3 linked regions of the Homo sapiens genome follow. The protein of the gene in region 1 binds, or shares a complex with, the protein of each later gene. Each region holds a gene or a part of one and is shown on either strand. Other genes may lie near its edges. The genes, in order: CRIPT, BUD13 and SNRPB.

Region 1 (3,615 bases):
CACACCTGGCCACGAGTTACTTGGTTTTCGTTTTCTGAATTGTTTTAGTTCCTTATAGATTTTGGACATTAGACCTTTTTCAGATGCACAGTTTGTGAATATTCTCTCCCATTCTGTAGGTTGTCTGTTTACTGTATTGATAGTTCCTTTTGCGGTGCAGAAGCTCTTTAGTTTGATTAGGTTCCACTTGTCAATTTTTGTTTTTGTTGCAATTGCTTTTGAGGACTTAGCCGTAAGTTCTTTCCCATAGCTGATGTCCAGATGTTATTTCGTAGGTTTTCTTCTAGGACTCTTATAGCTTGAAGTCTTACATTTAAATCTTTTTTTTTTTTTTTCCCCAAAGACAGAGTCTCCTTCTGTTGCCCAGGCTGGAGTACAGTGGTACAATCTTGGCTCACCACAACCTCCACCTCCCAGGCTCAAGCGATTCTCATGCCTCAGCCTCCCAACCTAACTGGGATTACAGGCACATGCCACCACGCCTGGCTAATTTTTCTATTTTTAGTAGGAATGGGGTTTTACCATGTTGGCCAGGCTGGTCTTGAATTCCGAGCCTCAAGTGATCCACCCACCTCAGTCTCCCAAAGTGCTGGGATTACAGGCATGAGCCACTGCACCCGGCCCCTTATATTTAAATCTTTAATCTATCTTGAGGTAATTTTATATATATGGTGAAAGGGGTCCAGTTTGAGTCTTCTGCATATGGCTAGACAGCTGTTCCAGCACCATTTATTGAATTAGGGAATCCTTTCTCTGTTGCTTATTTTTGTTAACTTTGTCAAAGGTCAGATGGCTGTAGGTGTGTAGCTTTATTTCTGTCTGTTCCATTCCATTGGTCTATGGGTCTGTTTTTATATCTGTACCATGCTGTTTTGGTTACTGTAGCTTCCTTATAGTATAGTTTAACTCAGGTAATGTGATACCTCAGCTTTGTTTTATTTGCTTAGGATTGATTTTTTGGTTCCATATGAATTTTAGAATGGATTTTTTCTTTTTTTTTTTTTTTGAGACGGAGTCTTGCTGTGTCTCCCAGGCTCTGAGTGCAGCTGTGCAATCTCAGCTCACTGCAACCTCTGCCTCCTGAGTTCAAGCAATTCTCCTGCCTCAGCCTCCCAAATAGCTGGGATTACAGGAGCCCGCCAACCATGCCCAGCTAATTTATGTAATTTTAGTAGAGATGGGGTTTCATCATCTTAGCCAGGCTGGTCTTGAACTCCTGACGTTGTGATCCACCCGCCTCAGCCTCCCAAAGTGCTGGGATTACAGGCGTGAGCCACTGGACCCGGCAGGATTTTTCTAATTCTGTGAAAAATGATGTTTGTAGTTTGATAGGAATAGCATTGAATCTGTGGATTGCTTTGGGCAGTATGGCCATTTTAATGATATTGATTCTTCTAGCTCATGAGCTTGGAATGTTTTTCCATTTGTTTGTGTCATCTCTGATTTCTTTCAGCGTGTTTTGTAGTTCTTGTCCAGCTCACATTTTATCTTCATACTTTGAGTAGCCTCCTTCCATGAATGGATCATCCAGTGGCCGCACTTAGGTTCTCCTATGAAGATTTTTGTTGTATTGTACCTCAGAACCATCTCCATATTCTCTAAATAATAATAATGATGGTCATAAATTGAATAGAAGTATTTACTAGATGAGGAGGAAAACCCTAAAACAAAACATGAACATAAAATATTTTTAAAAGGAAGACATACAAACAGACACTATAACCAAATAAGATGACAGAATTAAGGCCTTATGCCACAGCCAGAGTTGAAAAATGCAGAAAAAAAGTTTAAAAACAAGGAATTAAAGCCAAACCTAACTTTTATCAAAATAAATGTAAAAGTGATGAAAGAATCTGTTAAGATATCAGATTGTAATATAAAAGATACTAGAAACAAATGCCAATAGAACACTTAAGTACATTTTATATATTCATCCATTAGAATATATAGCTGTCAGAATGATAGAAGAATTACATATGTGTGCAAAAGTTTTTGTATCCATGTGGAAAACACAGGAAGCTAATAGTACTGTTTTTCTCTGGAGTGGGTGTAAGGGTAGAGACTTAACTCTTTACATCCTTATGGCAGCCTTCGAATACCTTTTAACTCCCAGTTCCCTTAACTGGGGGTGTGTATCCTAGAATCCTCGACCCATTAGAAAGTATATTGTAGACATCATACTCTTTACCCTTTAACACTACACATGCACTTCATAAGAACAAGCATGCTGTCTTACCCAAGTACAGCTATCAAGTTCAGAAATTTAACATTGCCATAATACTTTACAGTCCATATTTCAATTTCATTTGCTGTTTTATTGGTAATTTTTTTCAGCTCCACGATCCAGCCTAGGATCATATGTTGTATTGCCATAACCCTCTAATCTGGAGCAGTTCCTCAGCTTTTCTTTGTTTTTTATAATAGTAATATATTTGAAAAATACAGGACAGCTAAAGGATAGAGTATCCTTCTATTTGGGTTTTTCTGATGTTTCCTCATGGTTAGATTGGGGTAGTGCAGTGAGGGTTGAAATGCTGTAAGTGATATGTATTGCAGGTATACATCCAGATGCACAGAATGTCCATTTGTCCCTTATTGGTGATGCTAATTTTGATCACTTGGGTAAGATGTCCAGTTTCTCCAGTGTATCGTTATTGTTTTTCCTTTTGCAATTAGTGGGTAATTTGTGAGGAGAAACTTTGAGACCTTGTTGACAATTCTGTTCCTCATCAAATCTACCCCTCCTAGGTTTAGCATCCTTTGACGATTCTTGTCTGAATAAATTTTTACTAGGATGTTTCCAAAATTGTGATTGTTCTAACTCTATTATTATTTCTGTATTAATTAGTCATCATTCTACTGTAAGGAAGAGGTTTCCCTTTATCATCAACTTCGAGTAAGTACTTTTTTCTGAGCCATTTGAATATTCCTTACTAGATGTGGTGCCTCTTTACCCCAATTACTTAAGTTTGTATTTCCAAAGAACAAGGGTGTTTTCCTGCATAGCCATAGCACAATTACCAAAATCAGAAAATTAACATTAATACTTTACTATTATCAAATCTTTTTCATATTTTGCTAATTGTTTCAGTAATATGCAAAAAAAAAAAAAAGTCTGATCTGGATCCACTCTGGAGTAACATTACATTTAGTTGTCATGTCTGTAGTCTCATTTATTCTGGAGCAGTTCTTCAGCCAGTCTTTCAAAATGCCAAGGTTATGGGCCAGTTGTATTTTTTTTTTTAATTTCAACTTTTATTTTAGACTCAGGGAGTATATGTGCAAGTTTGTTACATGGGTATATTGCGTGATGCTGAGGTTTGGGGCACCATTGATCCCGACACCCAGGTAGTGAGCATAGTACCCAATAGGTAGTTTTCCAACCCTTGCACCTTCCCTCCCTCCCTCCTCTAGTAGTCCTCAGTGTCTATTGTTCCCAACCCGTAGACTTTTTATAGAGTAACTCTTAATCTGGGTTTTTCTGGTATTTCTTGATGATTAGACTGAGCTTATACATTTTTGGCGGGGATACCACAGAAATGGCATTGTTCTTTTCAGTGCACCGTATCATGGTGTCAGTTGTCCCATTACAAGGATGTTAATTTTGATCACTTG
Region 2 (3,653 bases), on another chromosome or scaffold:
TAGCCAGGTGCAGTGGCAGGTGCCTGTAATCCAGCTATTCGGGAGGCTGACGCAGGAGAATCGCTTGAACCTGGACAGCAGAGGTTGCAGTGAGCGGAGATCGTGCCACTGCACTCCAGCCTGGGTGACAGAGACTCTGTCTCAAAAAAAAAAAAAAAAAAAAAGAAAGAAAGAAACAAAAAAGAAAAGAAAATATTTAAGGCATATGCAATAGAATCAAAGGGACAAAATATATCATTCATCCTTTTCTTAGTCCTTGTTCACACCCTTCCCCCACTCTGACAGCTATTTCAAACGTTTGCCACTCTAAAAGCCTGGTTCTCTCTCAGCTGATGTCCACATCTTATATTTTATCCATTCATTACACAAACATTTATTGAATTTTCATTATATACTAGGTACCATGGTAGACACTACATGAAAATGAGTATGACACAGCACCTGTCCTGATGAACTCCCAGACTAGTGGAAGAGAGAGACATTTAAACAAATAAATTAAAAGAACAGCATAAACTCTGGTAGAAATACGCATGGGGTGTCATGGAAACAGAATGGGTATCTTAATCAGCTTGGGGGAGGTATGATAAAAAGGTGACATGAGGGTTGGGCAAGAATGATCAGTAAAGGCTCTGTGTTAACTACAGCACTGGGGATGGAAGGGCCAGAAAGGGTCTGGAGGTCATTTCAGAACAGAATGAGCAACAAGAACAAAGGCACGGAAATAAGAAGTGGCCTGGTATGTGCAGCAAACCAAAGGCAAACTGGTATGGCTGGAACCTGAAGTATGACAAAGGGAACAGCCATGAGTCAAAGTTGGAAAGGCGCAGAGGCCAATGCATAATGAGCTGCGTAGGCCATGGTAAAAAGCTTAGATTTCATCCAGAAACGATGGGTTTAAAGCAAGAACTTAAACTGCATTTCAAAGAGATCACTCTGGAGGGGATCTGGGGCAGGAAAATCACTGCAATGGTCCAGGCAACAGATGATGAAGGCAATGATAAAGAGGGACGGAAGAGAGAAGACACAGGAGGCAAAATTAGTAAGACTAATTAGCAGCACTAATTGATTAGGTACACAAGGACAAAGAAGGAGGAGGCAAGTTAGAGAGCACAAGAGTAGGAGCAGGCTTACAGTAGAAGCTGATGAGTTCAGCTTTGAATACAATGCATTTGAAATCTCTCAAGTCTAAATCAATAGAGAAATCCAACAAACAGCTAAATACACCAGACCAAGATGCAAATACTGATTTGGAAATCATGTACATATAGGTCATAGTTGAAAACATGACTAGGTAAGAATCAGCCAGAGGGAGCACATAGAGTGAGAACAGCTAAAAATTATGGATGGAGCCCTGGGAAAGACTTAAGAGGTGCACAGAGGAAGAGGAGTTTGCAAAGGTGGCCAAGAATGATCAGAGAAAAGAACCAGGAGTAGGGTGTCATGGAAAACAATACAGGGGTGAATTTCAAGGAGGTAGTGAGTGGACCTCAAATCCCTTTAATTACCATGCATTCTCTTGGTCTTCTTATCTAAACTTCTTAAAAAGCCTGTATTCACTATTTGTTTCCTCACTTTTCATTCACTCCTTAATACATTAGAACCTGGCCATTGTTTCACTACACAACGGAACTAGCCCTTTCAGGTCATCACTGACATTCCTTGTTGCCAAATCCAATGACTCCTCCTTCCTCTTCCCCAAATCAGCAAACAGGTCCCACCAGCTCACCCCTGACCACATCCCCACTTCCTATTCTCTTACTAACCATCCTTACTACCACTGCCTGCAAGTCGTAGTTCAGACACTCATTACTTTCAGCCTGAGCTACTGCAAAAGCCTTGTATCTGTTCTACTTCCAATCTTGTACCTTTCAAATCCTTCATATTACTGCTATAATGGATTTGTCTATCTAAAATGCAGAGCTGTTTTTAATCCTTCCGTGTCTCCCCTTTACCTCTAGGGTGAAGACCAAGCTCCTCAGATAGGCTTCCAGGGCCTTCTGTGATCACGGTCTGCCAACCTCTCTCATCCATCTCACGCTTTATGCTATCCAACAACAGCAAATTACTTAGGGACCCCCACCACCTGGTAACACCATGGTGTCTCATAGCCTTATGACTCTGCACATATAGGACCCTCTTCCTTTAATATCCTTCCTTTCCTTCTTATCTTGGCTGGTTACCAACATCCCTTAAAACTCAGCTCCCACATTTCATCCGTTAGGAAGCACTTCCTGATCACTCACATCCTCCTAAGGCTCAACTTACTCTTCCTTTGTGCTCCCAAAACATCTTGAAAATCTTCTATAGTAACACTAACCAAACAGCGTTGAAACTGTCTGTCTTCTATTCTAGATTGAAAGTGAGCTCCTGGGCTCAGGGGCTATCTCTCTTTAATCATGGAATCCCTAGTACCTACTACCTAGCTGCTTACACTTATAACATGTATGCTAAGACTTTCCCTTAAGGGATGAGTGGAGTGAGTAACAGAGGGCTTTAAGAAGGGAAGCTTGGCCGGACATGGTGGCTCACGCCTGTAATCCCAGCACTTTGGGAGGCCGAGGCAGGTGAATCACCTGAGATGAGAAGTTCGAGACCAGCCTGGCCAACATGGTGAAACCCTGTCTCTACTAAAAATACAAAAATTAGCTGGGCGTGGTGCTCACGCCTGTAATCCCAGCTACTCGGGAGGCTGAGGCAAGAGAATTGCTTGAACCTAGGAGGCGGAGGTTCCAGTGAGCCAAGATCGTGCCATTTTGCACTCCAGCCTGAGCAACAAGAGCGAAATTCCGTCTCAAAAAAAAAAGAAGGGAAGCTTATTATAAATGGCATCCTCTCCAACCTTAGAAGCATGGATGGTATTCCAAAGCACCAAGGAAACCACTGTTTTTTACCTTGGAAATAAGGTCTTAAGAGAGTTACACTAATATGATAATACAAAGGACATATGAATAACAAACACCAAATCCTAAGCAGAATCAGAAAACAAATTGCAGGAGAACTCACAGTGGAAAGAGCTTTGGACCAGAGAATCAGGAACGCAGAGTTCTAATTCCAGCTTTCTCAGGGAAATTGCATGACTCTAGGCAAACTGCTTATTTATTGGGCCTCAGTTTCTCTTTTTTTTGAGACGGAGTCTTGCTCTGTTGCCCAGGCTGGAGTGCAGTGGCACGATCTCGGCTCACTGCAAGCTCCGCTTCCCGGGTTCACGCCATTCTCCTGCCTCAGCCTTCCGAGCAGCTGGGACTACAGGCGCCCGCCACCACGCCCAGCTAATTTTTTGTATTTTTTTTAGTAGAGACGAGGTTTCACCATGTTAGCCAGGATGGTCTCAATCTCCTGACCTCGTGATCTGCCCGCCTCGGCCTCCCAAAGTGCTGAGATTATAGGCATGAGCCACCGCACCCGGCCCCGTTTCTCTTTCAATTAAGAGAGGCTGGGTAATTATCTTATGGGTTTTTCCAACAGATACTATATATCTGTTCCGGAAATATTCCCTTGCAGCAGGCCGAAAAGAGACAAAACTAGAAAAGATGATGAAAGATGAATAACAAAAAGAAAGCAAGGGTGACAAAGGGAAATAAGAGAAGAAATCTAGGATAAAATCAGAACAAGAAGTGGAAAAAAGCAACTGAGAAAAATGAAGACAAATTAAA
Region 3 (3,477 bases), on another chromosome or scaffold:
GAGTCTCATCCCTGTCCATTTCTCCTTGCAGACGGTGGGCAAGAGCAGCAAGATGCTGCAGCATATTGATTACAGGATGAGGTGCATCCTGCAGGACGGCCGGATCTTCATTGGCACCTTCAAGGCTTTTGACAAGCACATGAATTTGATCCTCTGTGACTGTGATGAGTTCAGAAAGATCAAGTGAGGAGTGGACTGTGGGGGGCGGAGACTGGAGGATGGGAATGGATTGAGTGGGTGGGCCAAGCAATAGAGGTGGTGATGTAGCTAGTTGGTTCTTCTCTGTTTATTCTCCAGTTTTAGAGGGCAGACTTAAATGGGGACATTGAACGCTAAGAAATCTTTTTGAGTCCAGCAAACCTTGCTCTCTAGTCTAGCAAAGTACAAGTTGTGAAGGGCTGCTAGGCTTTTTGTTTCTCTCACTTTGCGTGCCCCTGGGTACTGGGGTAAAGGGCTCTCATGTTCTCCCCACAGGTGTGTGAGGGGGGAGAGCTTGAGTTTCTGGCCTCATTGCCTATTTGTAAAGCTGTAGCCTAAAGGGCTCTCCCAATGCAGCCTGGTCTGAAACTGCTTTAAGAAGCCTCTGACCCTCTTCAGGGTAAGTGCTCAGCTCCCCATGTGGGTTTGGGGCCAGTGATTTTTGTTGGCATTTATACAAACAATTGGAGATATTGTCTACTTTGCTACAATTCCGTAAGTTATTGGCTAACTCCCTTGCCTTGAGTCTCACAGATCTTAAGCTTTTGGCCCATTAAAAGATATGATTTAGCTTCCCATCATGTTTTACATTCAAGGCTACTTGAGGCACAAAAAGATGATGTGACTTCCGTGGCCAGCAGCTCTTTTGTCATATGCAGTGTCCATATTATTCTGTCACTCACTTTGAATTCCCTTTGATTCTCCTTGGGGCTGATTTCTTCTGTGACCCAAGGTCAAGAAGTATAGTTTAAAAATGTGGTAGGGATGCCTTGGTGCCAGGTACGTATTAGAGAGGGGCCAACAGATGAGCGTGGAGCTACTCCAAAGTTCCCTCCTGATTATAAAAAATGTTTATTGGAAAATATTTTTGAAAATACAAAGAAGTCTATGAATAGAAACTAAAATACCCCGAAGGGTTTTTTTCTAATTATGAAAGGACAATACATGGTTATTATTTTAAAAAATAAGAAAATGTGAGCCAAAAAAGGGAAAAACTGTCCATCCACAGACAACCAGTTAATATACTGTAAAATATCAAAACAAAATCTTTTGAGTTCTTTTTTTAAATCAGGCTATTTTTTCCCCTTTATTTTTAGGATCTAGCTTTAGCTTTTTTCCCCACTTTCCTATCCTGTTGCAGTTATTTTTCCTACTTCACATTTATATTTTGTTCATCTTTTTCTGGTTGTTGCTTTTTGGGGGTTTCTGTTTTTATGCTTTTGAGGAACAGATATGAAATTTCAATTTCTGTGTATGTGAAATTTCTCTTAACCTTTTCCTTCTATGGCTTCTCCTATTTCTGATGTAAGATGAGGGGCAGAATTATAGGCCTGTGAGGTTGAATTGATATTAGAAGGACACTGCACGTAAGTGAGGTGGGTGGGAGTCATTTGATTGGAATTGTTTAGGCAGCCTCCTGATGTTGGCAAGACCTTAAGCTGAAGGGAGGGAATAGGGTCCTAAGAAAGAAGACTTGGCTGAGGGAAGGGCCTTCACGGTTGCTGTGGAATAGCATTTGGGCCCGGGCTGGGCTTTGTTGACCTTGTCCTATCTCTTGGTCAGTGTGTCCTCTTGGCATGGTAGGAAACAGGTAGATAGCCACCTAAGAGGTTATGTGTTCAGCCTGTAGAGACTATCCAGGAGGGCTATCTTGGGAAAGTTTGTGTACTGTTTGTTAGGAGATGCAGTATAAGCAAATCTTGGAGGCCACTAGGCAGGTGAACTTTACCCACCTCTAACACTTTTTTTGTTCCTTCTAAACCTCTCTTTAGGCCAAAGAACTCCAAACAAGCAGAAAGGGAAGAGAAGCGAGTCCTCGGTCTGGTGCTGCTGCGAGGGGAGAATCTGGTCTCAATGACAGTAGAGGGACCTCCTCCCAAAGATGTAAGTCAGAGCAGGAAGCCTTGTGGAGGAGGGGAGGCCCTACTGTGAGCCAGGCTCTGTGTTAGATTCTGTTTCATTGCAGTTCTCACAGGCATCCTCTGGATTTTGCCCCCTTTTTCAGATAATAAATGAAATCTTAAAGAGGTTACCCTGCAAGAGGCCGGGCGCGGTGGCTCACATCTGTAATCCCAGCTCTCAGGGAGGCAAGAGGCGGGAGGATAGCTTGAGCCCAGGAGTTCGAGACCTGCCTGGGCAATATAGCGAGACCCCATTCTCCAGAAAAAGGAAGAAAAAAAAAAAGACAAAAAAAAAAAAAAGAGGTTACCCTGCAAGAAAGAAGTGGAAAAGGGGAACTAGAATTTGGGTATCTCAGACTTTAAAGCTCTACCTGTTTCTCAGTTGATGTACATAGTGAGTCAGTGGAGGAAGCACCTGAAGCCATCTGGGTCAGTTCTTAATGTGACGACAAAGCCTAGGTAGACCTTAAAAAGTTGTAACTCCGAAACAATAGGAAATGTGTGTATTTTGTTTTGTACAGTTACAGTTCATAGTTACTGAGAATCTACCTTGCGCCAACCACTTCAGTATTTTATTTGATCCTTTAGGTCTCTTTAGAGATAAATTCTCATCTTATAAATAGAATAAACCAGGGCTTAGTAACTTGCCCAAGGTGCCACAGCCACTAAGTGGTGAAACTGACATTTGATCTCAGACAGTCTTGATTCTGTAAACACCAAGCTACACATAGAAATAGAGCAGGCTTTAGAGACCTAGTCAAATTTGTTTTCCCTTTCCCTTTTTCATTTGAAGGGTTTTTTTTTTTTTTTTTTTTAGATTTTTAGATGGAGTCTCGCTCTGTCGCCAGGCTGGAGTGCAGTGGCACGATCTTGGCTTATTGCAACCTCTGCCTCCCGGGTTCAAGTGATTCTCCTGCCTCAGCCTCCCGAGTAGCGGGGATTACAGATGTGAGCCACCACGCCCTGCCAAGACGTTATTTTAATCAAAAGAGAATAATCCTTTTAACTTTTTAAAAATCCACATATATTATCTGGATTTTTTTGTACTTAACACATAGTGGGCATATATTATGTTGTTCTGTGTTTTCACTTAATGTTAACATTTTTCTAGTTGCTCAACACTTTTAAAGTCAAGTTAATGACTGAGATTTTCTCAAATGAGTACAGAGTAGTTTATCCTAATCATTTTCTTTTTTGGAGATTTTTACGTTTTTGCCTTTTCCAGTTAAAAATGTCTGCAAGGGATGTTAGCATATCTTGGTTCAAAGTCCATGTACATATTCAAATCTCTTAGTACCTACTTCCAGTAGAATTGGCTGGTCTAACATAACCCATCATAAACCTTTGTGATCACAACCAGTTGTACCATAACCATGTC

Evidence for each region.
Region 2: CRIPT (region 1) and BUD13 share a complex: the UniProt entries of both Homo sapiens proteins name them as parts of the minor spliceosome.
Region 3: CRIPT (region 1) and SNRPB share a complex: the UniProt entries of both Homo sapiens proteins name them as parts of the minor spliceosome.

The regions. Positions count from the first base shown.
Region 1 is NC_000002.12:46,627,122-46,630,736, forward strand, and holds the end of CRIPT (cysteine-rich PDZ-binding protein), read left to right. Parts: 3' UTR 1-3,055; downstream 3,056-3,615. UniProt on the Homo sapiens protein: As a component of the minor spliceosome, involved in the splicing of U12-type introns in pre-mRNAs. Involved in the cytoskeletal anchoring of DLG4 in excitatory synapses.
Region 2 is NC_000011.10:116,748,838-116,752,490, forward strand, and holds part of BUD13 (BUD13 homolog), read right to left. Parts: intron 1-3,653. UniProt on the Homo sapiens protein: Involved in pre-mRNA splicing as component of the activated spliceosome. As a component of the minor spliceosome, involved in the splicing of U12-type introns in pre-mRNAs.
Region 3 is NC_000020.11:2,464,313-2,467,789, reverse strand, and holds part of SNRPB (small nuclear ribonucleoprotein-associated proteins B and B'), read left to right. Parts: intron 1-31; coding exon 32-183; intron 184-1,970; coding exon 1,971-2,082; intron 2,083-3,477. UniProt on the Homo sapiens protein: Plays a role in pre-mRNA splicing as a core component of the spliceosomal U1, U2, U4 and U5 small nuclear ribonucleoproteins (snRNPs), the building blocks of the spliceosome.